4 separate regions of the Homo sapiens genome follow, and all the other regions are linked to region 3. The links come from fine-mapping of genetic effects on gene expression. A gene starts in region 3. Each other region holds a variant in brackets. All regions are shown on one strand. Distances are between the middles of the regions.

Region 1 (7,540 bases), 21 kb before region 3:
ATATCAAAGAACGTGCCTAACATCTCATAAGGATATTCTTAACTTTCCTCCCCCAACCCCAACATAGAAAGCAACACTCTTCTGCTACCTTTGTGTCTTCTTTTGTCTCCAGTGAAAGATCTGCTTGGTGTAAAGAATGCAAACTCAGGCTTTACAGCCAACAGCTCCAATACACTCAGAGAACAGAGTACACTAACTAGAAAACAAACAGTGGTTCTCAAAGTGAGGACCAGTTGCATCAGTACCACCTGGGACCTTGTTAGAAATGAACATTTTTGGCTCCTACCCCAGACCTACTGAATCGGAAAGTCCAGGTGTGGGCTCCAGCACTCTGTTTCCCCAGCCTTCTTGGTTACTGATGCTCCTGCAAGTGTGAGAACTCCTGACAGGGAGAGAATGCTGGATCCTGAGATAGAAAACCCAGATTCTCCCTGGACCACCACCAACTAAGCTCTGTGTCCACAGACAGGTTCCACACTTCTGATCACTTATTGCCTAAGGTGCGAAATGACCACACAGGCTTTGATGACTAGTTCCTCTTTTTTTTTTTTTTTTTTTGAGATGAAGTCTTGCTCTGTCACCCAGGCTAGAGTGTAGTGGTGCAATCTCAGCTCACTGCAACTTCTGCCTCCTGGGTTCAAGCAGTTCTCCTGCTTCACGCTCCTGAGTAGCTGGGATTATAGGTATGAGCCACCACACCTGGCTAATTTTTGTATTTTTAGTAGAGATGGGGTTTCACCATGTTGGCCAGGCTGGTCTTGAACTCCTGACCTCAAGTGATCCACCTGCCTCGGCCTCCCAAAGTGCTGGGATTACAGGTGTGAGCCACCGCTCCCAGCCTAGTAGAGTCTCTTTCAGTTCTAGCCTGCGGTTTTTAACTTACCACGCCCAGCTAATTTTTGTATTTTTTAATAGAGACCGGGTTTTGCCGTGTTGGCCAGGCTGGTCTCGAACTCCTGATCTCAAGTGATTTGCCCACCTCAACCTCCCAAAGTGCTGGAATTATAGGCATGAGCCACCACATCCGGCTTCCATATATTTTTTATAGCTTATTTATAATCACGCCTAAGTGCCTAAAATCAGCTTCAATTAATTGTATGGTTAAATAATTTATTCAAATTATTTTAAAAGGTAAATAGAAAAGAGGTTAGTTGAAAAGAGAAGACATTACTTACAGCTTTTTTATCAGGTTGGCTATCATCATAGCCAGTTGTAAGGTCCCTAATGGCAGAAATTTCAAATTTGCCACAAGCTTTTGGATAATTATTTTTTCCATCGTAGTTTCTGAGGTTTTCAAATAATTTCTTAATGGTTTCTTGATCATGGCAGATAAAATAGGAAGCTTTAGTAATATGGTAGCCATACCTATCAAACAAATACAAATTCATGCACATGAGGAACAAATAATTTTGTAGGGTGGACACAGAACATGTACCAACCAGTGTATTCTAAAATAAATATGGCTGGGTGTGGTGGGTCACGCCTGTAATCCCAGCACTTTGTGAGGCCGAGGCGGGCAGATCACCTGAGGTCAGGAGTATGAGACCAACCTGGCCAACATTGAGAAACCTCGTCTTTACTAAAAATACAAAAATTAGCCGGGTATGGTGACAGGCACCTGTAGTCCCAGCTACTCCAGAGGGCTGCAGCAGGAGAATCGCTTGAACCCAGGAGGTGGAGGATTCAGTGAGCCAAGATTGTGCCATTGCACTCTAGCCTGGGCAACGAGAGACTCCATCTCAAAAAATAAAATAAAATAAAATAAATAATAAAATAAATGTAACAGCCAAAACTGACGCCAAAGGAATAATTTTTAAAAGACCATTAAAACAGAGGTCTAGGCCAGGCACAGTGGCTCACGCCTGTAATCCCAGCACTTTGGGAGGCCAAGGTGGGTGGATCACCTGAGGTTAGGCGTTTGAGACCAGCCTGGCCAATATGGTGAAACCCCTAACTCTACTAAAAGTACAAAAATCAGCCAGGTGTGGGGACACCTATAATCCCAGTTACCCGGGAGGCTGAGGTAGGAGAATTGCTTGAACCCAGGAGGCAGAGGTTGCAGTAAGCCGAGATCACACCACTGCACTCCAGCCTGGTGACAGAGCAAGACCCCGTCTCAAAAAAAAAAAAAAAAAAAAAAAAAAGAGGTCCAACAATCTACCCCAGGGATCACCAAATGACTGCCTGGTCTTCCGCCTGCATTTGCACAGAGAGCCAGGTCACACGCATTTCTGTATTCTCTTTGGATGCTTACGCACTACACTGGCAAGGCAGAGTTGAGTAAGTGCTACAAAAAAATGAATAGATGTATTATGAAGACATTCAATCTTTTTTGATACTGGACACTTAAAATCACATTCTTTCATGTTGTCATTTGTTAAGAATTAATGCGATCGGGAATAGTAATTACTAACTTGTTACATATCAAAAGGAAAAGGTGATCTCTTTAGTTTTTTTAAATTTTTTTTTTTTTTTTTTGAGACAGAGTTTAGCTCTTGTCACCCAGGCTGGAGTGCAATGGCGCGATCTCGGCTCACTGCAACCTCTGCCTCCCAGGTTCAAGCAATTCTCCTGCCTCAGCCTCCTGAGTAGCTGGGATTACAGGTGCCCACCACCATAACCAGCTAATTTTTGTATGTTTAGTGGAGACGGGGTTTCACCATGTTGGACAGGCTGGTCTCGAACTCCTGACCTCAGGTGATCCACCCGCCTCAGCCTCCCAAAGTGCTGGGATTACAGGCATGAGCCACTGTGCCCAGCCTTATTTAATTTTTATAAGAAATAGAATTCATCACCAAAATAAGAGCATTAGAAAGGATATTAGTATCTCATGCATAAGTATATAATAGAACATTTCAAAATATTATTTCAATCCAACAGAGTCAATAACAACTTACTCCACATAAATGGCCTTTAGTTGCTGAGACAAAGACAAATTCTTGGTTGCTAGGAAGCTAGCCAACTCTGCACTTATGACAGCGGCACTGACTCCATCTTTGTCCAGAACAAAAGGGCAGCACATGTATCCTGCAGAAACACACGTCATACATACATCTATACAATACTGTGTCAAACCACATATGAGTATGAATCCTGGCTATTGCATATTAGAGGTTGTACAGTGTTGCGTGTATGCACATTTCTCATTAATACCTTATGTTTAGGAATTTAGCCCAGTGCCTAGCCCATAGCAGGCCTTCAAGAAGTATTTGCTGAAGAACCTGCAAGATTTTCCCTCCTGGCCACATGGTGCTCAATCACTAGAGTCATGAAACTCCTTCCAGCTCATGAAATTGTTTCTAATTGTCCTAGTCAATACATATCTCTTTCTTCTCTGAATCCCAATAGTATTTGTTAGTTACATTATTCATTTTGACATCTGGCCTCTACTCTTGTGTGTGATTACTTAACTAAATCTATCTAAGCTGCTGTAGGCTAAGGTCAGTGCCATCCATTTCTTTTAGAGTCACTGAGTAATAGACATGCAATTAATACTTGATAAATGAAAGAAAAT[C/T]TTTCTTAAAATAAAAAGCTACGGAAAGACAAGTCTGCCAAATCTGACAATAAAAGAGCAGAACCTGAGCGATTATGCTTTGATTAGTTAAATCATGTGTTAGTGTTGCAGAGAATATACAAATGAATATAAATAAATCTAATGCATAATAGTTTTTACTAAATTAATAGCTAAAAGCGTTTGGTACAATGTGAGTTTCAAATTTCTATAGCTAGTTCTCCTTTCTGTTCATTTATATTGACAGTTTAGGACAAGGGTTTTTCTGTCATTCTGGCTGGACCTGGGTCATCCTTTTGGGTGAGTATCATTCTGATGACAGCAGCAAACCATGCCTTCCTTCTCCTTTCCTCTGGCTAGACCGTAGCATAGATCCTCATTAGCACTTTTGGAGGAGGAGGGACATTAAATACCACAGTGTTTAGGCCTGGATATTAACCACCACAGTGGAGGAAACATCACAACTCCCAAAATACATGTACCGGCAGCCAAGCATACAATGTCACTGTTTTGAGTCATCCAGGCAAAGGATTCTGACATGAATGACTTAGTTGTTTTTAAGACATTCCTTTTGGCTGTAAATCATCTGAGATGTCAATTTTGGAGTAGGACAGTTCGACATTCAACCTGAGTGCTGGAGAGGCAAAATAAACCGTGTTTCACTGTGGATCTTTGAATCCCAATCCAAACCTTTTCCTTTTGCCTTGCAGCCAATTCCTTAATGTTCATGATCACTTCTTACCAATAGCTTCTTCAAATGCAAATAAAACAGTTTTCCCCTGGTCTATTAGCTGTTTGGCTCTGTTTCCCATCCACTTAAAGCCAGTTAATGTTTCCTAAAGGGATAATCCAAAAGAGAAAGACATGCCTTAGATCTTCTACAGAGCAGATGAAAGGAAAATGAGTGAGTCCCAGAAACACCCTACCTCAAAATGAAAACCTTCCTTTAAGGCAATGGCCCGCAAGATTTTGGAGGAGACGGTGCTGGACAACATGTACGTGTCTTTGAGAGCACTGCGATCCTGGTTCTTCTCTTTCCAAGATGTAAAAAGCCACCAGCCCAGGAGGGCCCCCAACTCATTGCCTGAAAACACCCTCCATTCACCACTGAAAGAAAAAAAAAACAACAACCACCATTCATTTCCATAATCTTAAGGAAGACTCTAAAGTGTCATGGGGATAAAACAATTTAGCAAACAAAGCATCTAAGTATTTTCTGCAAGGCTGTTCTTGTTATTCATCATCTTTAAATAACTGGTCAGAAATGTAACTGCCATTTTACAAACATCTGAGCAGCTACCATATATATCAGCCAGTTTGCCTGAACAGACATCCTGTCTTTGAAGACTGTATAAAATAAGTATGTCACACATGACACACAATGGCTCTATATTAATCTTTGGCAAAGCCTTTGGTTTTAAATATAACAAATATGCTGGCAAGATCCCCCATATATAGAGTAAGTTTTGCTATCTCAATTTCTGGACTGGTCAGTATTGCTGATTCTGAGAGGGGACAGCTCAGTACCCCTTAAGATCAAGCTCAGTCCTAAATGGTCAGAACATCAGAGAAAAGATGTGTAATTTCTGCTTCTCTTGGCAGTCCAGATGGCTAGAAGTAAATCTCACCTATCAGGACGTATCATCTTAGCTTAACTTTCTCAACACTGATATAGAATGGAACCTGTTTTATCACAATCTGAAAACCCTACCATTTCAGCAGCAGCACCCTCCTGCCCCCAAAACATCACATAGGCTACCTGACGCCCAAAATTGCTTGGGCCCTGCCTACCTTTCAACTTTAGCCCCACGTACTTACTTCTCCTTTGTACAAACTCTCTGGTCAGACTTGTCTTAAACACTGTGCCGATACCCCACAGGAATTCCTCCCTGGTCTGTCCAAACTAAATTCAGCATCTCCTTGAAGGTACTGCTCCCTCCTAAACCCCTCAGCAAATACTGAAGCATACAGCTAGCACCAAAGTGCTTTACCCTCATTAGACACTGAGACATTACTTATAAAAAGATCAATTACAAAATGAGAAGTTCCCAAATAGGAGTTTCAATTTGAAATATATACTGGGTTGATTTACTCTGCATTATGCTTGCCAATCACGTAACCTCCCCCCACACTAGATCTCTATCTTGCTCTCCATTAGAAGACTCTACAGGAGGTTCAGTGAAATGATCATTTGCAAAATAAATGGGAAATGTTTCCAAATAGGTCCCGTCTCCCCAGAAACATTTTACCAATGAAGAGATCATCCTTTATATGTTCTATAATATAGGTAATCACAATTAATTTTACCTGTCTTGCTTTTCTGCCACAGCAAGTCTATCAGCATCCGGGTCGTTAGCTAAAACAATTCTGGCCTTGGTTTTGTCAGCCAAAGCAAAAGACAAAGTCTGAAGAAGAATATGAAAATAAAAGATTATTTAATCAAGAATCGAGCATATGATAGTCTTTAAAAACATTCAGTTCCTTAAGAACTCAAGAGGTCTTTCCCCTCTTAGAAAGATAATATAGGACCAACCAAGACAGCTCCAGAAGTGAAATTTAGCAAACAAAAGCTGCAGCTGGTCTTGGTTGGTCACATAGTATCTTCCTAAGTCAGAGGTCAGATAATGGGAGCATCGGTGTGTGACCCAAGCCTACCAGTGTGCCTGCTGCACATGCGCCAGTAGGTCTGTGGTTGGACTGGTATTTCGGGGCATTGCTGTGTGATCAGCCTCACAAATAAAACAAAATAAACTGATTCTCTGAATGCCACTGCTACCCCAACCTTTAAAAATGTTACAGAAACCATAATGTAAGCAACACTTCATATCAGAAAAATGACAAGAAATAAAAATCATAACCTGCTAAAGTTTCACTCTATTACTGCTTCTTTTTGGCATTAAGGAGACACGGCAAATTAAATTAAATTAAATTAACTGAATTTGAAGCACCATTTAGAGCTCAGTTCTCATATCCTGATCCTGGGGTGTTTAATTTGAAAGATCCTTTAAGAAATTAATGACTAACAAATATACATACTTCTTGTTTTTTTTTTTTTTTTTTTTGAGACAAAGTCTCGCTCTGTCACCCTGTCACCCAGGCTGGAGTGCAGTGGTGCAATCTCAGCTCACTGCAACCTCCATCTCTCAGGTTCAAACAATTCTAGCGCCTCAGCCTCCCAAGTGGCTGGGATTACAGGCATGTACCACCACACCCAGCTAATTTTTGTATTTTTAGTAGAGACAGGGTTTTGCCATGTTGGCCAGGCTGTTCTCGAACACCTGACCTCAAGTGATCTGCCTGCCTTGGTCTCCCAAAGTGCTGGGATTACAGACATGAGACGCTGCACCCAGCCAAACATACATATTTCCATGCTGAAATTAGTTTTTCTTCAGCACAATGAAAACACATAAAAATGTATTTTACTTGACAGTAATAGTTTTGAATATAAAAGCAGATTTCATAATTTAAAAAAAAATTAGGTTACCAAGACACCTTTCCCCTCTTCGGGATTCGGGTATTTCACTGTTGGAAACTCAGGATCCGGATCTTTCTGTTCAGGAACAGCCTCAGGAGGAACAAGGTCAAAAGCCTTGAAAGCTGACTGCACAAAGCTATGACCCACCCCATGGACAGAGGTGTGCACAAACTTCACCTTTGTCTCCCTGTTCACGCTCCTAGAATCAGATACACAGTGGAAAATGATACAAGGCAGAAACAGGGCTCTCAAAACTGCAAGGTTTGCAAGAATGCACAAGACAACTGAACATCTTTCTAATTCCATTTCAGAAAAACAAAACGTATCCATTCTCTCCCAGATATATATATTCCTTCCCTCAACATACTCAAGTTTTAAATTCTACTCTGTAGTTATTTTCAGCAAATCTGATTATTTCAGGTTTTGTTTTATGCATCCCATCTAGAGTGAGATACAAAGAAGAACCTCAAGCTCATGTTCCCACACGAGACTCACTGCTGGCCTGACAGGTGCCCTGACAGTGCTACAGCCAGCCCGGGACAGTTCCAGGGCTC
Region 2 (7,540 bases), 30 kb before region 3:
AAGCAATTAGCACTGAACCTGGCCCAAAGACCTCAATAAATGTAGCTATCATTATAATTATTTTTATCCCTACTGGCAACATATAAAGTAATTATGCTTTTTAAGTACATATGAATTATATCAGTTTTCTTTTCCTTCTCCATAAATGTGCTTTGAAGAAAATAACAGTTCTCAGGAAGGCATGTAAGCTAATCATTTTTTAAAGTATACTTAAAACTAAAACTTGGTGAATTTACTGATTACTAATTTATTATTCAAATTTATTTCTTAATCATGACATGAGTGAACATTACGATTCATGTATGCAGTGATATGTTTTTGATATTGCATTTTATGTGTGAAAAAGAAATCAGTACCACCGTGTAAGGTTTAGTGGTACAATTCTTAAAACAAAAATTTTGTGTTACTATTCTCCATCCTAATCGATAACTGTTCCATTTGTTAAATTAATGCTTGAGAATATTTCATAACATCTTTAAAAATAACAGGACACATCCTATAATCATTTAAGCCAGGGTTAGGAATTCCTGTTTCTGAAAAGAATCTAGATGGATCTCTTTATCAGAATGTTTAGGAAAGTATCATTTTTCTCTAATCATCATGAAAAAACATTTAAGCTAAACGACAAGTAAATACAATGCAGTGTTCTTGATTTGATTATAAATTGGGGAGAAAACAGCTATTTTGGGGACTTTTGGGGATTTAGGTGTCAATTTGGCTAGGATAGTGTCTCCAGTTATTCAAACACTAATGTTGTGATGCTGTGAAGGTATCCTGTAGGTGTGATTAATATCTATCATCAGTTGATTTTAAGTAAAGGAGATTATCCTAGACAATGTGGATGGGCTAGATTCTATCTGAAAGGCATCAGGAATGGAACTGAGGTTTTCCTGAAGAATTCCACCTGTAGACTGTAACTTTAACCCATGCCCAAGAATTCCAGGCTCCCTTTCTGGACAGCCTGCCCTGCAGATTTCAGACTTGCCGAGCTGGCCCCTACAATCAATTGCACAGGTTGATTCCTTGCAAACAATCTCTTAATAGGTACATTCTACTGCTTCTGTTGGTCCACTGGAAACCTGCCTAGTACCATTATTATCTATTTGCCTTAATATTAAGAGAGTGTTCTTAAGAGATGCATACTGAAATATCAGGAGTGAAGCATCATGAAGTCTTATGATGTGTCATGAAGTATCACAGAGTGTTTCAAATGGTACAGAAAAATCTCAAATACATAACATATATGGTGAGAGAGCAAATATTGCAAAATGTTAGCAATTGCTCAGTCTGGATTGGGGTCAACAAACTGTGGTTCATGTAGTTTTACTGGAACACAGCCCTGCCCATTCCTTTATACATATGGCTGCTTTCTTACTACATTAGCAGAGCTGAGTAGTGGTGACAGAAATCACATGTCTGCAAATCCTAAAATATTTACTATCTGGCTCTTTACATACAAAGTTTGGTCTAAGTGAAGGGTGTGTGGGTATTCACTGCATTCTTATTCCAACATTTCTGTAGGTTTGAAACTGTTCAAAATAAAAAAGTTGGACAAAACTAAGGACATCTCCCCTGACAAAAATATATTTTTAAAGCAGCACATACTTGAAAAGGATTTTCCATTTTAGTTGATTAGAAGGCCATGAAATTCTATGAATAATTGAAATTTATGACATAAAGCATATTAATAATATTTAAGCTTTTCAGGAAAGAAGGAAATCTTAGTGAAGACATTATTGCTAGCCTGGTGCAGTGGCTCACGCCTGTAATCCCAACACTTTGGGAGGCTGAGGCTGGCAGATCACTTGAGGCCAGGAGTTCGAGCCCAGCCTGACCGACATGATGAAACCTTGTCTCTACTAAAAAAAAAAAAAAAACACCAAAAAATTAGCTGGGTGTGGTGGTGCATATCTGTAATCTCAGCTACTCAGGAGGCTGAGGCACAAGAATCGCTTGAACCCAGGAGGCAGAGGTTGCAGTGAGCTAAGATTCCACCATTGCACTCCAGCCTGGGCAACAGAGAGAGATGTCTTAAAAAAAAAACAAAAAACAAAACAAAAAAAACTTTATTGCTGTTGTACGTTAGGTATGCTGGTGCCTTGCTTAAGCCGTGACCACATATCCATCTACTGACATAGCGCTTAATGTCCCATTTAATAAATGGAAGCAATGTTTCAATGCATATAATAAAAGGACAAATTTTCAAGGTTTTTTTCACTAATTTATAAGCTAATATTTGAATTTAAGTCCACTCAATAAGCCATGTGAAAAATGTTAATACCATAAAGCCTTAAACATTTAAATAGTGTTATCATTACAAAGGAAAGCTTTCCGAAGTATAAGATATATTTTCATCAGATAATGAAAAGGAAAGGACAAGATACAGAAAAAACAGATCCTTAAGTTGGACTGTTTAGTTGGACTGTCCATTTCTTTTTAAAAGAATGAAACATAGAAATAAGAAAACACTAAATAAGCAAGAATTATAAAGAAATGTTTACAAAAAACTATATGCAATATAGCAGCAAAGAGCTTACTATCTAATGCACACGAAAACAAGATTCTTGCATAATATTACAATAAAATATTGGTAATCCAGAATTCTTAGAAAATGAGCTTTTATATGTTCACTTAATAGTTGAGTTTTTGCACTTTAAGCACAAAAAGGTTTTGAATGGGAATCCATAGTGAAAATATATTACATAGTCCCATGACTTCTTAAATATCTCTTTATTGAACATCTTGACATTTGAGAGCCATAAGCATGACTGTGTTGGAGTGGAGCTGTATTCTGGGCTCACTTGGGTGTAGAATGCTATTTCCCTCATGATAAACTCATGGAGTGGTGAGCTTTCTAAGTCCTTGTGTCCACGTTTTATAGTTTTGTTTTGTTTTAATATTTCCTTTCTTGCTATCAGCAGTCACTTCTCCTTGCCTAAGAAAAGTTTGTTATACTTCCCCATTCCTCTAATTTGCTACATTTAATCTGCTACTAGCTTGGCAATTTAAGATGCTCAGGAATTTTCATCTGCTTTTATTTGCACAAGTTTGATTCACGAGGCTGGAAAAACTCTTCTATGAGCAAAGCTTTGGTTTGTCTATGTTGTCACAATTACCTAGATGGGTGCTGTTTACTACAGCGGCCATTAGACACATGTGGCTACTAAGAACTTGAAATGTGGCAAGCGCCACTGAGAAACTAAATTTTTAATTTTATGAAGTTCAGTTAATTGAGTTCAAGTTTTAAAACTGATACTTGATTCAGTTATTAGAAAACAAGTATGTTTGGAATAATCTGGGTATTAAAATCTACTTTGTCTAATCTAAATTTTATTAACTCTACAGATCAAGTATTTCTGATAAAAATGGAGCATTCAAATTGAGATATGCCGTAAGTGTAAAATTACTGAATCAATTTTGAGGACTTTTTTCCAGAGGAAAAAAAAAGAATGTAAAACATCTCATTAATAATATTTATACTGATTATATGTTGTAATAATTTTTGGATATACTAGGTTAAGTAAAATACATTATTGAAATTAATTTCACCTGTTTCTTTTTACGCTTTTAAAAGGTGACAAGTAGAAAATCAAAATTGCATCTGTGGATTGCATTTTAGTTCTGTCAGACAGCACTGACTTAATTCACCTTTCACAAAAACTTTTCCTGATTTTCAACTGTATTCTGAATAGGGAAATGCTGGTTAACGGCATGTTGGATAGGCATGCAGTATCACACTTACACACACTAAGGACAGCACTGAGCTTGTTAAGGTGCAAAATGTTAAGTTGTTACAGAGTGACCAACTCAAACACTTTTTTGAGGTCACAGAAACTTGAACCTGAAGCTACCAGCCCATCAGTTCTTTGGCAGCAAGGACTCTCTCTGATGAGGCTCTCTGTGCCCCCTCCAGAACCCAGCACAGACCTGTCTACAATGGGTACTCAAAGATATTTCTTGAATGCATGTGGAATGGATTATAATTTATTTATTTATTTATTTTTTTGAGATGGAGTCTCGCTCTGTCGCCCAGGCTGGAGTGCAGTGGCGCAGTCTCGGCTCACTGCAAGCTCCGCCTACCAGGTTCACACCATTCTCCTGCCTCAGCCTCCCGAGTAGCTGGGACTACAGGCGCCCGCCACCACGCCCGGCTAATTTTTTGTGTTTTTAGTAGAGACGGGGTTTCACCGTGTTAGCCAGGATGGTCTCAATCTCCTGACCTCGTGATCCGCCTGCCTCGGCCTCCCAAAGTGCTGGGATTACAGGTGTAAGCCACCGCACCCGGCCCGGATTATAATTTATTTTATCAGAGACATGGGAAGACTGAAGTTTGAGAAAAAGAGAAAATCTCATTGGTGTTAGCTACCAATGAAAAGTGTTTAGAAAAAGGCACTTTTACTACTATACTGAAATAAGGATAAAATTTTCCCATACAAAGAAATTTAGGACAAAAGTAAGAAAGTAAAAAGTAAGCTTTTCCCTGGATGCTGAGACTGACTGTTAATACCAAAATATTAGTGCAGGTTCTGAAACAGCATTTCTAATTAAATTACCTATTAGAAAGATGGAACATTTCACTTGGCATTTGAATAGAACCAGTTAGGAAGTCTGGGGAGTAAAAATCACACCAGCTGCCATCCACATCATACCTGTTCCCAGGTGGGGCACACAGCTCTGCATAGTACTTGATTTTGGGCTCTGTCCCACTGGTGCGCATGGTGGCCACGCCTCCATTAGCAAAGGTGAAGGTGATCATTTGGCTGCTTTTACTAGTGGGAAGAACCTAGGAATTAATGCACACATTATAAATTTAAATAGTAACATTCTGGCCTAACCAATATCTTCTCTTGCATAAGTAAGAAAATAAATGCCAAACAAATCTATTGGTTAGAAAAGAAAAACATTCTGGAGGAAATCAGAAAATGTACTCCACATGAATGAAATACTAAACGATAGTAATTTATGAATATGTGGTCTACTATATGGAATACTATTCAGCCTTAAAAGAGAAGGAAATCCTGTCATTTGCAACAATATGGAAGAACCTGGAAGACATTATGTTGAGTGAAATAAGCCAGGCATAGAAAGACAAATACCGCATGATCTCACCTACATGTGGAATCCGAAAAGGTTGAACTCACAGAGGCAGAGAGCAGAATAGTGGTTACCAGGGGCTGACTGGGGAAGGGTGGGGATAAGGGAGGGGAGTTTGGGGAGATGCTTGTCAAAGGGCC[T/G]AAAGTTTCAGCTAGACAGAAGAGAAGTTCAAGAGATCTATTGTACAATACGGTGACTATAGTTAATAATGATGCATTGTATACTTGAAAATTGCTAAGAGAGTAGATTTTAAGTGTTCTCACTACAAATACATGATCAATATGTGAGGTAACACATTCTAATTAACTTGATTTTAGCTATCACAATGTATACATTTTAAAACATCGGATTGTACATCATAAATGTATACAATTTTTATTTGTGAATTAACATAACTAAATTAATTTTAAATAAAGAAAATTAAGTAACTTTGTGTATTAGCTTTTACTTCCCTAGTTCTATTGAAGTTATTAAAGTTTTATTTAAACACATCATTTCACAAGATATTGACTTAAACAGATTAATACACCACAAAAAAAAACCTCAAACTAGATTATATTTACTGTTATAAAGTGAATCTTTGCAAAGAAAATTCCATAAGGAGTTTTTTTTGTTTTTTTTTTTTAAATAAAGCTTCCAGGCTGGGCGCGGTGGCTCATGCCTGTAATACCAGCACTTTGCACTTTGGGAGGCCGAGGAGGGCGGATCACATGAGGCCAGGAGTTGGAGACAAGCCTGGCCAACATGGCAAAACCCCGTCTCTACTAAAAATACAAAAATTAGCCAGGCATGGTGGCGGGTGCCTGTAATCTCAGCTACTCAGGAAGCTGATGCAGGAGAGTCACTTGAACCCGGGAGGTGGAGGTTGCAGTGAGCCGAGATTGCGCCACTGCACTCCAGCCTGGGTAACAGAGTGAAACTATGCCTCCAAAAAAGAAAAGAAAAAGAGAAAAAAAAGGAAGCTTCTGTAAGAAAAAATAAATGCCATATAAATTTACTGGTTAGAAAAGAAAAATGGTCTTGAGGAAATGGTATATTTATATTTGATAGGTCCCAAAACTCCATTAAAATAGAGGTACTTTGAATAGCATAAACACACGGGCAAAGAGACAAAGAGGAGGTAGCAGCTGATGGGGCTGCCAACCGATCGCACAAGTCAGAAAACAGATGGAGGCACAGAACTGGTCTGGTGGGACCCAGAGAATGAAATCTGAGTGCCTGCGGAAGGAGACATGGATGAGAACTGAGGCAAGGTGCTCTGCAAAATCCTGGCCAAGCTCAAGAACCAGAGGCACCAGGTACTGCAAAAGGCAGATGTGAGGCAGGGGTGGAAAGCAGGAACAGGGTTTGAAAGAAGTTCTTAGACCATCCCGGTTCCTTGCCCTGAGCCCACACCGTCACAGAACCACCTCTTCTCCATTTCTGCAGGAGATGGTTTAAATTCTCTGGAGATTAAATCAGAAACATTCAGGAGTTGGGGAACCTGGGCAGGGCATGATGAAAACAGAGGGATCAAGTAGAAGTCCTCAGGCTGACACCCCCAGCTCCGCCCCAGTCATGCCTCCAGGGCCTTGGCATCTCATCTTATCATCCTTGGGTAGGTGATTAAGGTCTCATTAAATCAGGGGGATCCCCTTATAAAGTTAACTTGCTACCAATATCCTCTGAGTGAAGTATGTCATTTGATCTGCATATGTACACAGAGCTTCCAATCAGTTCTTAGGTGCCCAAAGGAAAATTAAGGATCATCAGACTTTTGGGGAAAGACATCATGTAAAAGACAAAGTCCAAAACAAACAGAATAAAAAGAACTTGGTGGAAATAAAGAGAATGTAGCAGAAAAAGAAGACATATATTTTTAAAAAACTATAATTAGGTCTATAATCCTTAGAGAGGTAAGATATTGTTTACATTAAAAAAAAAAAAAAAAAAAAAAAGGAATATCACCCTGGGCAACACAGCAAGATCCTGTCTCTACTAAACTAAAAAACCTTAGCTGGGCATGGCGGCACACACCTGTAGTCCCAGCTACTCAGGAGGCTGAAGCAGGAGGATTGCTTGAGCCCAGGAGATCAAGGCTGCAGTGAGCTATGATCATGTCACTGCACTCCAGCTTGGGTGAAAGAGCAAGACACTGTTTCAACAGGACACTATTTTTAATAAATTAGTTATAACTGAAACAGCCAACAGAGGCACTGAAAGCTAAAGCTAAGGAAATCTCCCAGAAAAACAGAAGAAGAAAGAAAGAAACAAGAAAAGTAGAACATCAGTCTTGGAAAGCCAGCATCTAAGAGCTCTTCAAGAAACAAAGAACTGAAAATGCAGGGGAGGTGATTATTTTAAAAAATAACCAATTAGCTCCCTTTCCTGATACATAATCAAGAAAACTTCTCAGAACTAAAATAAATGATTCTACAGACCAAGTATCCAGAAACATGAATAAAAA
Region 3 (7,540 bases):
TTAAAAGTTGTCAGCTTAGTTGGTGCATTTATACTGGAATGAAAGCTCCATGAGAGAATCTGTTTGTTCGAGTCATTCTTATATCCCCAGTGCTGGCACATGGTATGTACTCAATAAGTGTGTTAAATGAATGAATGAATGGATGGATGGCTATATGAGTCCTGAATAAGTGCTACTTCGACCTATTGTGCAAGCCTTACTTTATGGAGTAAATGGTGGTGACTTCCTGTGTCTAGCCAAGCTGGTAAGACATGTCTATAATTAGAATAAATTAGGTCTGCCAAATAGAAAATGAGCTAGGGGATACATTGAGTTACTAAGAATTATAAAAAACATGGTACCTGTGTAGTCTGGATGATGGTCAAGTCATTCATACGAGAAATTCCAGGTCCCATAGCAGCTCGGAGGCCAGCTGTCCCAAACTCCATTCGGGCCCCAAAACATTTTCGTAGTTCTTCTTTATTACCTTCTGCTATTAGTCGTTTCACTGCCTCCAAAGTTAAGGAATTCTGAAAAACAAAAATGTATAGACACAGCCAGACAAGTGAATGAAAAATCAGAAATGTAAAAAAATTCACAATCATTCTAATCTATAGAAAATATATATATATGTATATATATATATGTAGACCTTTCAATTTTCTGATGCTTTTGAAATCTGAAATATGAAGTCAGTTTGACATTATAATGTAAGTGTTCTTTTCTTTCCTGTCAAGGTAAGCACCTTTGGAGAAATCAAAGTAGAGATTTTAGCATATGAGTCTAACCCCCAGAATGGAATCCCAGAATACCACTTGCCAACTCTAGGTGCTTGCGCAGATTATTCCAGTTCTCAAATTCTGTTTCCCTATTTGCAAAATGGGAATAATCTAGAACCTCCCTTACACGATTTTTAAGGTTTTAAGGTGGTTTACTTCAAATTAATGTAAAATATCTTTCTCTACCTGGCATTTAGTTGTGATTAAATGTCCATTTTTTTCCCTAATGCCCTCAAATTTTCCAGAGTGATAGATTACACAACTTAAGTCAAAACCTTACTTTTGTAATGTTTTATAATTCATACCAGGCATTCACATACCTGGTCAAGTTTGAATATTGTAACATCTCCAAGAAGTAGACAAATAACAGAAACCCAATTTTATAGATGGGGAAGCCTCAGAGATTGGGTGACTTGCTTAAATTGCAAGATAAACATTAATCTAGTGCCTTTTCTATAACATTAACTGCTTCAAATAGACGCTAACATGATTCATTTAAGTTCATTATACATTGCCCTATTTTTTTTTTGTATGGTAGTTGCAGAAAATGTTATGGTTGGAGAAAAATAATGACAATCACATTAGTTTCATATGAGACTTTTAAGTTATGAATTCAGGAAAACAACAGAGGAAGGACTTTATATTCCTGTTTTACAGTCATTATCCATTTAGATGAGCACTCACGCAGGACGTGGCCATTTAATTAAACTTTGAAATACTACTGCAATAAAACCTTGGCTTTCTGGAATTAAGCCCACATTTCCAGATTGTGGCAGATTCAATGGGAATCAAGTAAACCCCATCTTTTTTGGTGAAAAACAGCAGATGCTAATTACAGAACACAGTCTTACCTATCAGATTGTCAGGTGCCCCAAAGAAAGGCTCAGATCAGGTACATAAAAGAGGCTCATAAAAGAGCCTCAATAAATATTAGTGGAGTGAATCAGAAAACATGGACTTCACTGCCACACTCAATATCGAGTGATCCTCCCTTGTTCATAGTGTAGGTCTGGAAAATCTTAATTGGTCTTTGATATCTATGAAAGACTAAGTAGCCTGAGAGAAACAAAGGAGACAGACAGGTAAGAATGACAAGTCAAGAGTACAGCAGGATCAGAATCAGCCCTGGCAGTGAGCAAAACTGACAGCAGAGAAAAGAGCAGGGATGAAGGCACGGTGGAAAGACAGAGGGCACCTGCCAGGGCGCCTTGCCAGTCGCCGGGGGTAGTCTGACTAGAGGGCTGCAATGCTTTTAGCTGGTGGGAGGTTCACTGGAGAATGAATGGGCTTCTTCTCAGGTGCCAGTCTCAAAGCAAAGAAGAAATTAACAGAGGATAGAACATGAGAAGTGATTAAAAAAAAAAAAGGACATCTCATCTCTACCCAGAGAAATACAATTTTTCTATACACAGATGCAACACTGTGTAGAAATTAGATTGTTTTCTTCTTCTTCTTAGAGAAAGTGCATTATGAACTCTGACTTCAAAAGAATTCTGTACTCTGCAAGCTACAAGTTATCAGAAATGGAAACATTTTTCTTCCCTTGTGAATCACAAGGTTATCTTCCCAGGAAAAGAAAAACGCCCCCAAGGAGTTGCCAATAGCATCCTGGAAATGGGATTTGCTGACATTTTATTTGTAGGGGCCAGAGAATGGTAAATAAAGACAAAGACCTGACCCCTACTGACCTTGTAATCTTCTTTGTTCATTCAAGTATTTCAGTGACCTACTATGTGTCATGCACTATGCCTATGCCAGGCACTACAAACCAAGGTAGTGAGAATAGAGAGGCCTGGCCACATAATTTATGGAGGTCCAGTGCACAATGAAAGTGGGTGACCTCTTGTTTTACCAGTAAGACTTTCAAGACAGGACAGCAGGACATTAAAACAACAGTGGGCCCTTCAAGGAGCGCGAGTCCTGTGAGACTGCAGGGGTCTCTCGCCCCTGAAGTCGGCCCTGGAGACAGACATTAAACAAACCTACAAACAAGTGTTTTTGGAGTTTTTTGTTTTTACCATTTGTAGTAAGAGCTATAAAGGAAAATAACAGACTGTTTAGAGTGAATATTAGGGATAAATAATTTAACGCTTCGGAGCCAAGGAAGGACTGACTCTCTACGTAAGCCACATTTAAGTTCAGGCACAAAATATGAGTCACAACGGGAGAAACAAGTTCAGCAGGAGAGCAGCGAGGGACATTCCGAGAAAACCTAACAGCAAGCAGAACAGGTCGAAAGGGCGAGACGCAAGTTTATAGAGAGGAGAGGGAGTGATGTCCAGAGCTGGGTTCCTGATTCTAAGAAACGGAATGAAGAGAGAGAAAACCGTGCTGTGTCCCAGGTGTGCCTCCCTGGCAGTCAAAGTTCTAAGGGGGACTCCTGAAGCCAGGCGGGCCCACCCGGGAGGACAACCCACGTTTGTAACCAAGCCCTCGGGATGGGAGGACCGGACCAGAACGCTGCTCTGCAAAGGTCTCAGCGGCCAAAGGAATACGCGGGACGGAGCGATTCTGGGTCCATGGGGATGCACAGCCGACTACCGACGACGAGCCAGCGGTCTGAGTGACAGTAAGGCGTGCGCCCCTCAACTAGACAGCGTCCAGGGTCTGGCCGCGCTTACACCACCCTGGCTCGCTCCTCTACTCCGAACTTGCAGTCCGGCCGGCCGGATGGCTGGTTTCGTCCGGGGACAAGCCTTCCCGGCCTAACTCTGAACGTGCCGCATGCCGGCCAGGTCGAAGGAAGCCTAGCAGCGGCCGTACGCTCCTGGGTCTTCCCGGGGGAGAAGCGGGATGCACTGGGCGGGAAGGCAGCTCAGGCAGAGCAAGCAGCGCCGCGCCTGGAGAGGGCAGAGCACCCGGCCCCGCTCCAGGCGCTCCCCGCCTGCTGGTGCCCCTCACCTTGTCCCAGCGCAGCCACTGGGCGGTCTCCTGGTCCAGCCGGGCGTCCTCGCCTAGACCGCTGCCTTCTGGAGCCGCCATCGCTGAGCTTGTGCTACCGCTGCAGAGGGAAGCAGGCGGTGAGATCTGCCTTCCGGCCCGGCCCCAAGACGTGGAGGCGGAGGCGGGGGCGGGGAGAGCCGCGGCGGAGCCAGTCGGTCCGGGGGAAAGTGACGCGCGCCGCGGCGGGCACGCCTCCTTGCCGTTTGCGGGTGCGCTGCAGGGGGTGGGAGTGAGCGAGGAGGAATTGCGGGGCTAGGGTGGGTTGCTGGAACCTGGCACGTGTGAGAAGGGTTTGCCATCGTCTCTGATGCATCCAGGCTACAGCCAGCCGTGAGTTCCTGCTGCGCGCCAGGCACATGTCAGATGCTGGGATACCAGGAAGTGCACCCAGATAGGGGCCTGAAGACTATGTAGAAACTCAGAGGGTCAAGAACAGCCAGAAAAAAATCTTGAAAAAGAAAAGCAAAGTAGGAAGACCAGTGGAACATAAGATAGAGACCAGAAACAAAAATACACGTGTATGGACAATTTATTTCAGAGGCGGGGCTGCAGAGCACAGGAAGGAACTATTTTTGGTTAATGGTGCTCGGTCAAAGGGATATCCACGTAGGGAAAAGAAAAAAGGGAACTTGGCCCCCTACCTCCCATCACACACAGCTCTGAACTCCAGATCAATTGTATCTCTAAGTGCGAAAGGTAGTGTAGCAGGAGGAGCCGCAGACAAAACTCCTCAGACACCGGATTAAAGAAGGAAGAGGTTTTTATTCGGCCGGGAGCGTCGGCAGACTCGCGTCTTAAGAGCCGAGCTCCCTGAAAAAGAAATTCCTAGCCATTTTAAGGGCTTACAACGCTAAGGGGTCTGTCTACGTGAAAGGGTCATGATAGATCAAGTAAGCGTGAGGAACGTGACTGGGGGCTACATACATCAGCTAACAGAACAAGAAGTTTTACAGTGCTTTCTCATACGATGTCTGGAATTTACGGATAACGCCAGTAGTTTTGGTCAGGGGTTAATATTATTATTATTATTTTAACCACCAGGGCCAGGTGGTGGCGCCAAGGTCGTCTAGCTATTTATCTTACTTCTGTTTTTTTCCAACTTTTTGCTTTCTCTCTTTTCTCCTGTCTTATAAACTAGGGAAAAGGGGAGGTGGGGGAGAAGCTGGGAAGGACAGCAGAAATGGTGGTCTCTTTCCATAGTAGCGTGAAACTTAGGGAAACTAACATAGGAGCACATCTTCCTGACGCTGGTATCACCAAGCCATAAAGAAGATGCATACCCATAAGCATAAAAAAGCACGGGCAAGAATATTTCTAGCAGCATTATTTGTAAAAGCCTCAAACTGGAAACAACCCAGATGACCATCGACAATACAATGGATAAATACTTGGTAGTATATCCATACCAATTCATATAAATAAATCATGGCACATTGATAGAGCAATGCAGGTGAACTACTGTTATACACAACATCATGAATGAATCTCACAAACACTGAGTGACAGAGTTCAAACACCCACCCCCATACCCCGTCACCCCAAAATACTGCATCATTCATCTGTAGTCCCAGCTATTTCGTGGTGGGGGAGCTGGAGGGAGTCCTGAGGAGGGAGGATCGCTTGAGCCTGGGAGGTCGAGGCTGCAGTGAGCCCTGATTGTGCCACTGTTCTCCAGCCTGGGAGACAGAGGGAGACCCTGAAAAAAAAAAAAAAAAAAACACTGAAATATATAAAATTATAGGTAAAGGAAACAAATCAGTGATTTTCAAGAGCTGGGGGTTGGGGGAGGGGTTGACTACCTAGGGCACAAGGGAATTTGAGGGAGTTGTGGAACTGTTCCGTATCTTGATTGAGTTTGGGGTTTACTTTTATCAAAACTTATAGAACTGTACGATATAAAGGGTAAAATTCACTGTATGTAAGTTATATCTCTTTTTTTTAAGTTTTAAGATTAAAAACTAAAAAGGAGGCAAAACTAACCTATGGATGTCAGCAGAGTGGTAGCTTTGGGAAGGAGGGAAAGTGCCTTCTGGGGTTCCGGGACTGTTCTGTTTCTTGACCTGGACGATGGTCAACAGGTGTGTTGACTTTGTAATATTCACTAAGCTGCAATCTTATGAGTTGTGCATTTTCCGTATGTTCTTCAACTTTATTTTATTATTATTTTTTGAGACACAGTGTCGCTCTGTCACCCAGGCTGGAGTGCAGTGGTGTGATCTCGGCTCACTGTAACCTCTGCCTCCTGGGTTCAAGAGATTCTCATGCCTCAGCCTCCTGAGTAGCTGGGATTACAGGGGCGTGCCACCATGCCCGGCTTATTTATTTATTTATTTATTTGAGACACAGTCTTGCTCTGTCACCCAGGCTGGAGTGCAATGGTGGGATCTCAGCTCACTGCAACCTCCATCTCCTGGGTTCAAGTGATTATCCTGCCTCAGCCTCCTGAGTAGCTGGGATTATATGTGTGAGCCACCAGGCCCAGACTTTTTTTTTTTTTTTTTGTATTTTTAGTAGAGAACGGATTTCGCCATGTTGGCCAGGCTGGTCATGAACTCCTGACCTCAAGTGATCTGCCCACTTCAGCCTCCCAAAGTGTTGGGATTACAGGGATGAGCCACCGCGCCCGGCTAGTGTGTTCTTCAATTTTAAAAAGAAAAAATATATATCCAGGATCTGTAATATCTGTTTAGTGTCATGGGAAAGGCATACTAATCATGTAATCACGGCAGTTAATACGTAATTACAAACTGATAAAATGCTGGAAGGAAAGCAGAGAGATGTCATGAGGCTGCAGGTTAACAGAGGCCACCTCAGTCAGGAAGCTTGCCTGAGCACTGGAAGCTTAAGAGAGATGTGAGGGAAGGATGTAGTTAATGTGAGAGTGTGGTCCTTCCCCTGACTGCAAAACCTGAGAGGCTGGAGCACAGAGAAGAAGAGAAGGACAGTCTGCCTCAGTTTCCCCAAATGTTAGGTGGTCTGCAGGTCCACCACACTCAGGCTATCTCTTTTCTCTGCACCAGATAAACCTTCTTCTCAGTCATGCTCTGGAAAAAATTGCAGGACATGGAGAATCACAGACCCAGGCAGATCTCACTCACCCTTGTTTTTATCTCAAATGCCAGTTTTCCCAGATGAGTCTGTGCAGCCTCCAGCCTTCTGCCAAGGTAGGACGGGAGCTGGTGGGTCTCTAAATATCCAGCAGTTCTGGGCCTCAGAGTTCACATCTGTCCTTCCGTGATAGGGATGGTTGCAGCTGAGTCTCTACTATGGTTCAAAACATGTGGGGAGTGGTGTCTAAGGAAGTTATTTTGGCACCTTTTTTTTTTCTTTGAGATGGAGTCTCATTCTGTTACCCAGGCTGGAATGCAATGGCGTGATCTTGGCTCACTGCGACCTCTGCCTCCTGGGTTCAAGTGATTCTCCTACCTCAGCCTCCTGAGTAGCTGGGACTACAGGTGTGTGCCACCACACCCAGCTAATTTTTGTATTTTTAGTAGAGACGGGGTTTCACTATGTTGGCCAGGCTGGTCTTGAACTCGTGACCTCATGATCTACCCACCTCGGCCCTCCAAAGTGCTGGTATTACAGGCGTGAGCCACCACACCTGGCCAGGCACCTTTTATTTTATTAGAAATTGTGGGCCCAAGATGATATCCAATCAGAAATATTTTAACTTCATTTGAGACACCAAGAAGCAGATTTTTCAATATTCCTTTATGGAAACAAGGAAATAAAGCAAGTGTAGTTTCCAAGTAGAGAGGAACTTTTAACTAGTAAGTTGCCAAATGTAAATAAATTCTCTTATCTTACTGAGAAGGGCACCAAGATTTTAATTACTG
Region 4 (7,540 bases), 39 kb after region 3:
TGCTTCCACATTTTTGGATATCTTTTTAGCAGTGCCCCACTCTGCTGGTACCAATTTGCTGTATTGGTCTATTTTGAAGCTGCTGATAAAGACCTACACGAGACTGGGTAATTTACAAAAGAAAGAGGTTTATTGGACTTACAGTTCCACTTGCCTAGGGAGGCCCCACAATCATGGCAGAACGTGAAAGGCACATCTCACATGGTGGCAGACAAGAGAAGAGAGAGCTTGTGTAGGGAAACTCCCTTTTTTAGTATCATCAGATCTCATGAGACTTATTCACTATTATGAGAACAGCACTGGAAGGACCCGCCCCCATGATTCAATAATCTCCCACCAGGTCCCTCCCACAACACATAGGAATTGTGGGAATTACAATTCAAGATGAGATTTGGGTGGGGAAACACACAAACCATATCACCCCCAAATCCCAGTGGGGCCCAGATACTTATATAGCCTTATTTCAGAGGCTGGGGGAGAGATGGGGAATATAGGTAATTCTGTTTAGGGGCAGTACATGATTACTAGGGAGAATGAATGGATGGGAGTGGAGATTAACTTGTAAATGGTTCTCTTTGAAAACAGAATGAGCCTGAGAGACAGTTATTATCTTGTGAAAGAGTCTGTTCAGGTGCGGTTACATTTGTGATCTTCTTTTCTGCAAAAGATAATGAGATAACAGGGAAGGAAAGGAAAAACCATTATTCTCCTTGGTGGGTCTGTCCTGTCTTTATGTAGCTAGAGAAAAAGTCTCTTCCAGCTTTTGCTGAGCTCTAAGGGACTTTAATTCATTCCTTACACCAAGGAGCCAAATTTTAAGGTGAAGTTCCCTGTACTCCCTCATTCATCAGGAAGTACATTCTCAATTATTCCTAGTAATCTCAATTATTGCTTGGTAGAGAACACACAGATTCATATTTCTGAGGAAGCCACTAACTGTCTTGAGCTTTTCCAAGCCAAGGTTGAGATGGTCTTGTCAGCCGACCTCTGCTGGCTGAACACACGAACTTTCTGAGCCCAGTGTGGTACAGATTCTCATGTTTTTACCTGGTATATGGCAGATGCACCTTACAACAATAATTTAAACATACCCTGAGAATGATTTTAGGGTCTAAGAAGCATGTGTGTTTGGAGTTCCAAGCTAAGGAATCCAGGAGTGGCCAACCCAGAGATTGAAGGGATTGAGGCCCTTTGTTTTGGGTTAAATGGAGGTTGCTGAGAGGAGGGTCCTAAGTGAAAATGCTGTATAAACTGCATGCTTTTTATAAACAGTAATGGTGCTACTGTCCAGCTTGCCACCACTGGGCCATTCCTGTATGGAGTTTCCCTGATAAACCCTATGTCTCATTCATTGTCTCCAGGTCTCTTATTTGCCCTCTAGGGTATGGTGCCATCCCTATCGGAGTCAATAGGGGCCTGGCATGACATCTGGTGAGCACTTCATGGCTGATCAAGCTCAGGGCAGGGTCTTAGGTGCAGCTGGTTGAGGCAGATGGCTTTTCTCTGGGGTTTAAGTATCATCTCAAAGTGGAGGTGCAAGATACTGGGAGCATGCTCAGTTGAATTGAAACCACCTTTGCAAAAATTATAACTGAGGAAATGACAGTGATAGAGATCAGACCTAACCAATTCCATCTTGCTTCTAATCTTTAAGCTGTCCTTGTTCATTCCTGGGCATAGGCTGAACTAACCTTGGGTAATAATTTAGTTTATGGTTTGACTCTGAAACAAAGTTGATAATAGCCCTTTCCCATAAAGACCCCTTTCTTGCCTGGGGACCAGTCTGCCTTTGCAGGACTAACAAATTAGCTGCAAGATTAGAAATTACAGTTTAGGGGTCATGCAGCCTCTGGCTGCAAGAGTCTGAACCTCCCCAAATTGCTCCCGGGGATAACATCACTATTGTAAAACCTAAGATCAGTGTTTGAGATATTTTGCAGACCTTGCACTCGATGGATCATCTGACATCACCCAGACCCGTAATCTGGGTCAACCAATTCTGTGATCCCACCCACGAACAGAAGACAGCAAGAAAACCTCATTTTGAACCCCCCTATAATTTCATCTCTAACCTGACCAATCAGCACTCCCTACTTCCTGAGCCCCTACCCACCAATTTATCTTTAAAAACTCTGATCCCCAAATGCTCAGGGAGACTAATTTGAGTAATAATAAAACTCCTCTGGTCTCCCGCACAGCCGGCTCTGTGTGAATTACTCTTTCTTCATTGCAGTTTCCCTGTCTTGATAAATCAGCTCTGCCTAGGCAGCTGGCAAGGTGAACCCATTGGGCAGTTACAGAATAAGCCCCACAGTAACGACCTTCCTTGGCTGGAGAGAGAAGTCCAATATTTCAGCCTTTAATAGACAGCATGCTGCACTCCAACAGAGTCAACACTGTCATCGATTCTCACTGCTATGCAGAATTAACTTATCAATAGTGGCAGTGTTGTCCTGTTTTCAATCTCTAGGACTTTAAGCACTGGTATCCTTTTTAGAAATGCTTTATATTTTATGTTGGAAAGTAGAAGATATTTTTATCTGAACCACCTGGCATCAGAATTCTCTTTAGGGAGAGAGCTGACTTCATTGGGGGAAAAAAAAGGTAAATATTTGAAATGGAGGAAGAGATGTCTAAGTTACATTTAAGTTAAAAAAGATCCATCATGATCACAAATGCTCTGTAGAAAACAAGGAGATAATTCCGCTTCGCTCTTCGGAGGAGATGGGGAAATGAAAGAGAGAAAAATGAAGAGAGCATAGAGAGAGTAGGTGTATTAGTCCATTTTCACGTGACTGATAAAGACATACCCGAGACTGGACAATTTACAAAAGAAAGAGGTAAAATTGGACTTA[T/C]AGTTCCACGTGGCTGGGGAAGCCTCACATTCATGGCGGACAGCAAGGAGAAGCAAGTCACATCTTACGTGGATGATGGCAGGCAAAGAGAAAAGCTTGTGCAGGCGACAAGCTCTTTTTAAAGCCATCAGATTTCATGAAACTTATTCACTGTCACAAGAACAGCATGGGAAACACTTTCCCTCATGATTCAGTCACCTCCCACCAGGTCCCTCCCATAACATGTGGGAATTCAAGATGAGATTTGTGTGGGCACACAGCCAAACCCTGAATTTGGGTTTCAGCCCCTGGCCCCTCCCAAATCTCACATCCTCACATTTCAAAACAAATCATGCCTTCCCAACAGTCCCCCAAAGTCTTAACTCATTTCAACATTAACTCAAAAGTCCACAGTCCAAAGACTCATTTGAGACAAGGCAAGTCACTTCCTCCTATAAGCCTGTAAAATCAAAAGTAGGTTAGTTGCTTCCTAGATACAATGTGGGTACAGGCATTGGGTAAATACAGCCATTCCAAATGGGACAATTTGGCCAAAACAAAGGGGCTACAGGCCCCATGCAAGTCCGAAATCCAGCAGGGCAGTTAAATCTTAAAGATCCAAAATGATCTCCTTTGACTCCATGTCTCACATCCATGTCATGCTGATACAAGAGCGGGGTTCCCATGGTCTTGGGCAGTTCCACCCCTGTGGCTTCGCAGGGTACAGCCTCCCTCCCAGCTGCCTTCACAGGCTGGCATTGTCTGTGGCTTTTCCAGGTGCATGGTGCAAGCTGTCAGTGGACCTATCATTCTGGAGGATGTTGGTCCTCTTCTCACAGCTCCACGAGGTGGTGCCCCAGAAAGGACTCTGTGTGGGGACTCCAACCCCACTTTTCCCTTCTGCACTGCCCTAAGCAGAGGTTCTCCATGACAGCCCTGACCCAGCAGCAAACTACTGCCTGGACACCCAGGGGTTTCCATACATCCTCTGAAATCTAGGCAGAGGTTCCCAAACCCCAGTTCTTGACTTCTGTGCACTCGCAGGCTGAACACCATGTGGAAGCTGCCAAACTGCCATGTGGAAGCTTCAGAGGGTGTAAGCCTCTGAAGCCATGGCCCAAGCTCTATGGTGGCCCCTTTCAGCCATGGCTGGAGCGGCTGGGACGCAGGGCACCAAGTCCCTAGGCTGCACACAGCAGGCGGACCCTGCACCTGGCCCACAAAACCACTTTTTCCTCCTAGGCTTCTGGGCCTATGATGGGAGGGGCTGCCATGAAGACCTCTGACATGCCCTGGAGACATTTTCCCCATTGTCTTATGGATTAACATTCAGCTCCTCATTACTTATGCAAATTTTTGCAGCAGGCTTGAATTTCCTCTCAGAAAATGGGATTTTATTTTCTGTTGCATTGTCAGGCTGCAAATTTCTGAACTTTTATGCTCTGTTTCCCTTTTAAAACTCAATGCCTTTAACAACACCCAAGTCATATCTTGAATGCTTTGCTGCTTAGAAATTTCTTCCACCAGATACCCTAAATCATCTCTCTCAATTTCAAAGTTCCAGAAATCTCTAGGGCAAGGGCAAAATGCCCAGTCTCTGCTAAAACATAACAAGAGTCGCCTTTGCTCCATTTCTTAACAAGTCCCTCATCTCTATGTGAGACCAACTCAGCCTGGACCTTATTGTCCATGCCGCTATCAGGCTTTTGGTTAAAGCCATTCAACAAGTCTCAATGAAGTTCCAAACTTTCCCACATTTTCCTATCTTCTTCTGAGCCCTCCAAACTGTTCCAACCTCTGCCTGTTACCCAGTTCCAAAGTCACTTTCACATTTTTGGGTATCTTTTCAGCAGTGCCCCAGTCTATTGGTACCAATTTACTGTATTAGTCCATTTTCATGCTGCTGATAAAGACATACCTGAGACTGGGCAATTTACAAAAGAAAGAGGTTTATTGGACTTACAGTTCCATGTGGCTAAGGAAGCCTCACAATCATGGTGGAAGGCAAGGAGGAGCAAGTCACATCTTACAAGGATGGCAGCAGGCAAAGAGAGGAGCTTGTGAAAGGGAATTTCCCTTTTTGAAACCATCAGATCTCATGAGACTTATTCACGGTCATGAGAACATCATGGGAAAGATTTGCCCCCATGATTCAATTGCCTCCCACCGGGATCCTCTCACAACATGTGGGAATTCAAGATAAGATTTGGGTGGGGACACAGCCAAACCATATTAGTAGGGGATAAGCAAGATGGTGAAAAGTTGCATAATTTTCACCTTCCCTGGGACCTCCAAAATATCACAACAAAGAGTTCTTTGTTTGTTAGGAACATATTAGGCTGCAAATAATAGAATACTAGACTCATGGTCGCTTACATCAATGGGAGTTTATTTAAAATCAGAGCTATGTAGCAGTTGGCATGGATTCAGCTGTTCAACGATGCCATCAGGGACCCAGACACTGTCTATATTTCCACTTTACCATCCTTGTTCTGTTGGCTTTTGTGCTCATGCTTGCCACATTATGGTCTTAGGGTAGTTGCTATGGGCTCACACATTACGTTTATATTTCAAGGCAGGGAGAAGGAAAATGAGGAAAAAGGTACCAACAATGGCCATGTTCTTCTTTAAGAATTAACTAACTTAAAGATAGTTAGTTCTTTCCCAGAAATATCCTCACCAAGTTTCTACTTGCATCACGTGGCCTCCCTGAATATAAGGGATGAAAGGAAATAATTTAGCTTTTATATCTTCTATAATAGATGCAGGCAAGGGAGAAGGCATGGTGCTGGATCAACCAAGCCTATAATATCTGCCATATTTATGGAATTCATAAATGTGGGCTGTGTAGGAGCTAGTTTGGGAAATCAAAGAGAGTGATGAGTTTTCCACTGGGAGTTTGTCTGGTGTGAACAGATGCAGCTCTTGAGAAAGAAAGAGGTCACAGAGGAGAAGAATCCAGGGAAATGCAGCCCTTGAGAATGGACAGAATCCAGGTGAGAGCTTTTGGCTTCCACAGACTGCAGATTGGAAGGATGGGATGTGTCACAACACTGAGATTTCATGGTTGATGTCCAGCTTCTACTGATCTTTAGTTAATCACCAACCCCTGCTAATTCTTCCTCTCCTACAGTCTTCAAATTTGACACTTTCACGCAGTCCTTTCTTTAACATCACTACTAGTGAAGCAGGATATTTCCCTGACCCCTTCGAGGGACTTGTGACAGGTGTGCTTCATTTACTCAGCCTACCACTCTCAACTCTTCATGAGAGGGAGCACATGATCAAACGAGTGTGGCAACTGGAGTAGATGAGTGCTGGAATCAGCTCCTTTGGCACTGGTGGGATCACACTCCACTCACTCAGACCTGCTGCATTCCAGCCCTTGTAGGAGGGAGCAGACAGGTGAGAAGGTGCAGGAACTGGCTGGATGCTTTAGCGCCAGCAGGAGCAAACTCCATGCAGGCCCCACAGCAGCATCCAGGCAGGGGTGTCTGCAACCCCCAAAGCCCCAGAGGGAGTGTTACAGAGCTCTTTTAGCTCTGCCATCTTTGGATGGCTTAAGTGTTAACAGCTCAGTTAACAGCTCAGGCCCTTTGCCTTTTCATGTGAGGCAGCTGCCCTCCACCTGTGAAAGCAAAGGGACAGTGTGACAGCCTTTTGAATCCACGCTTGTGTCTCCCAAGCTCTTATCTGGCATCCGGGAAAAATGAAGTTGCATGAACGAATTGAAGGATGGTAAATGCAGGGGGATTTTATTGCCAATGAAAGTGACTCTTAGCAGGAAGGAGGGCTGAAAAGAGGATAGTGAGGGAAGGTAATCTTCCCCTGAGGTCCAGCTGTCTCTGGCCAGATTCTTCTCTGAAGTTACACCAACAAGTTGTCTCTCTGAAGACAAGCCACTTCTCTCCAACATCTAGCCATAGTTCCTGCCTACTGGCTGGAACTTTTATAGGCACAGGATGGGGTGGGGTGGGGCCATGGGTAGTTTAGAAAAAGGCAACATTTGAGTGGGAAAACAGGGATAAAACAGGGATAAAAATTCTCATTTTGGGCCACAGTTGCAGACTTTTTGGCTTGAGGATGGGGTTTCACTGGGGACCTGCCTGTTTGCCTAGAATTTCTCTGCCCCCGTCCCTATCACTAATGTCTCCCTTGCCATTCCTGAAATTTCCATAGATGTCTTGTCTGTCTGCCTTCAGTTTTTCTCCTTCTAGTCCATCCTCATTTCGCTTGTTTTTGTCTAGCAATTGCCCTGTACTTTAAAGGCTGCAAAATCACTTTCATGGGGAAAGAGTATAACTAATAAATGGCTGGAAAACAAAATGTCTTGGACCATGGTGAGAAATTAACAACAGAATTAGTCATCATCATGGATAGAGCTGGAGGTCATTATCCTTAGCAAAGTAATGCAGGAACAGAAAACCAAATACCGCATGTTCTCACTTATAAGTGGGAGCTAAATGATAAGGACACATAGAGGGGAACAACACACACTGGGGCCTATTGGAAGGTGGAAGGTGGGAGGAGGGAGAGGATGAAGAAAAATAACTAAGGGGTACTAGGCTTAACACCTGGGTGATGAAATAATCTGTACAACAAACTGCCCCCCGACTTCATGACACACATTTACCTGTGTAATAAACCTGCACATTCTGCACATGTACCCTTGAACTTAAAAGTTAAAAGAATTAGTCATTTTAATG

Which allele goes with the higher level. Alleles are on the strand shown, and positions count from the first base shown. SD is a standard deviation of normalised expression in the study named. Not every link is listed here.
For the expression in monocytes after R848 of the gene that starts at base 3,787 in region 3, T is the low allele of the variant in region 4 and C is the other (large effect, 0.89 SD a copy in Quach 2016).

What was found. PIP is the estimated chance that this variant, and not a neighbour inherited with it, causes the effect.
Region 1: its variant is fine-mapped to the expression of PGM2 in whole blood (INTERVAL, PIP 0.92).
Region 2: its variant is fine-mapped to the expression of PGM2 in whole blood (INTERVAL, PIP above 0.99).
Region 4: its variant is fine-mapped to the expression of PGM2 in monocytes after R848 (Quach 2016, PIP 0.95).

The regions. Positions count from the first base shown.
Region 1 is chr4:37,844,009-37,851,548 of GRCh38, reverse strand. It overlaps PGM2 (phosphoglucomutase 2), which reads right to left. Exons shown (of 14, transcript NM_018290.4): 7 at 6,996-7,185; 8 at 5,819-5,916; 9 at 4,438-4,618; 10 at 4,254-4,347; 11 at 2,898-3,027; 12 at 1,176-1,365. Among named protein-coding and RNA genes, the nearest start is that of PGM2, 21 kb to the right of the region's middle. The variant C/T (reference allele first, on the strand shown) is at 3,515.
Region 2 is chr4:37,852,851-37,860,390 of GRCh38, reverse strand. It overlaps PGM2 (phosphoglucomutase 2), which reads right to left. Exons shown (of 14, transcript NM_018290.4): 13 at 4,650-4,783. Among named protein-coding and RNA genes, the nearest start is that of PGM2, 30 kb to the right of the region's middle. The variant T/G (reference allele first, on the strand shown) is at 5,235.
Region 3 is chr4:37,822,933-37,830,472 of GRCh38, reverse strand. PGM2 (phosphoglucomutase 2) reads right to left here and starts at 3,787. Exons shown (of 14, transcript NM_018290.4): 1 at 3,660-3,787; 2 at 342-509. The coding sequence starts at 3,740. RefSeq lists enhancers at 3,115-3,614, 3,615-4,116, 5,149-5,318 and a silencer at 3,605-3,904.
Region 4 is chr4:37,783,814-37,791,353 of GRCh38, reverse strand. No RefSeq gene overlaps it. Among named protein-coding and RNA genes, the nearest start is that of PGM2, 39 kb to the left of the region's middle. RefSeq lists an enhancer at 3,512-4,011. The variant T/C (reference allele first, on the strand shown) is at 2,856.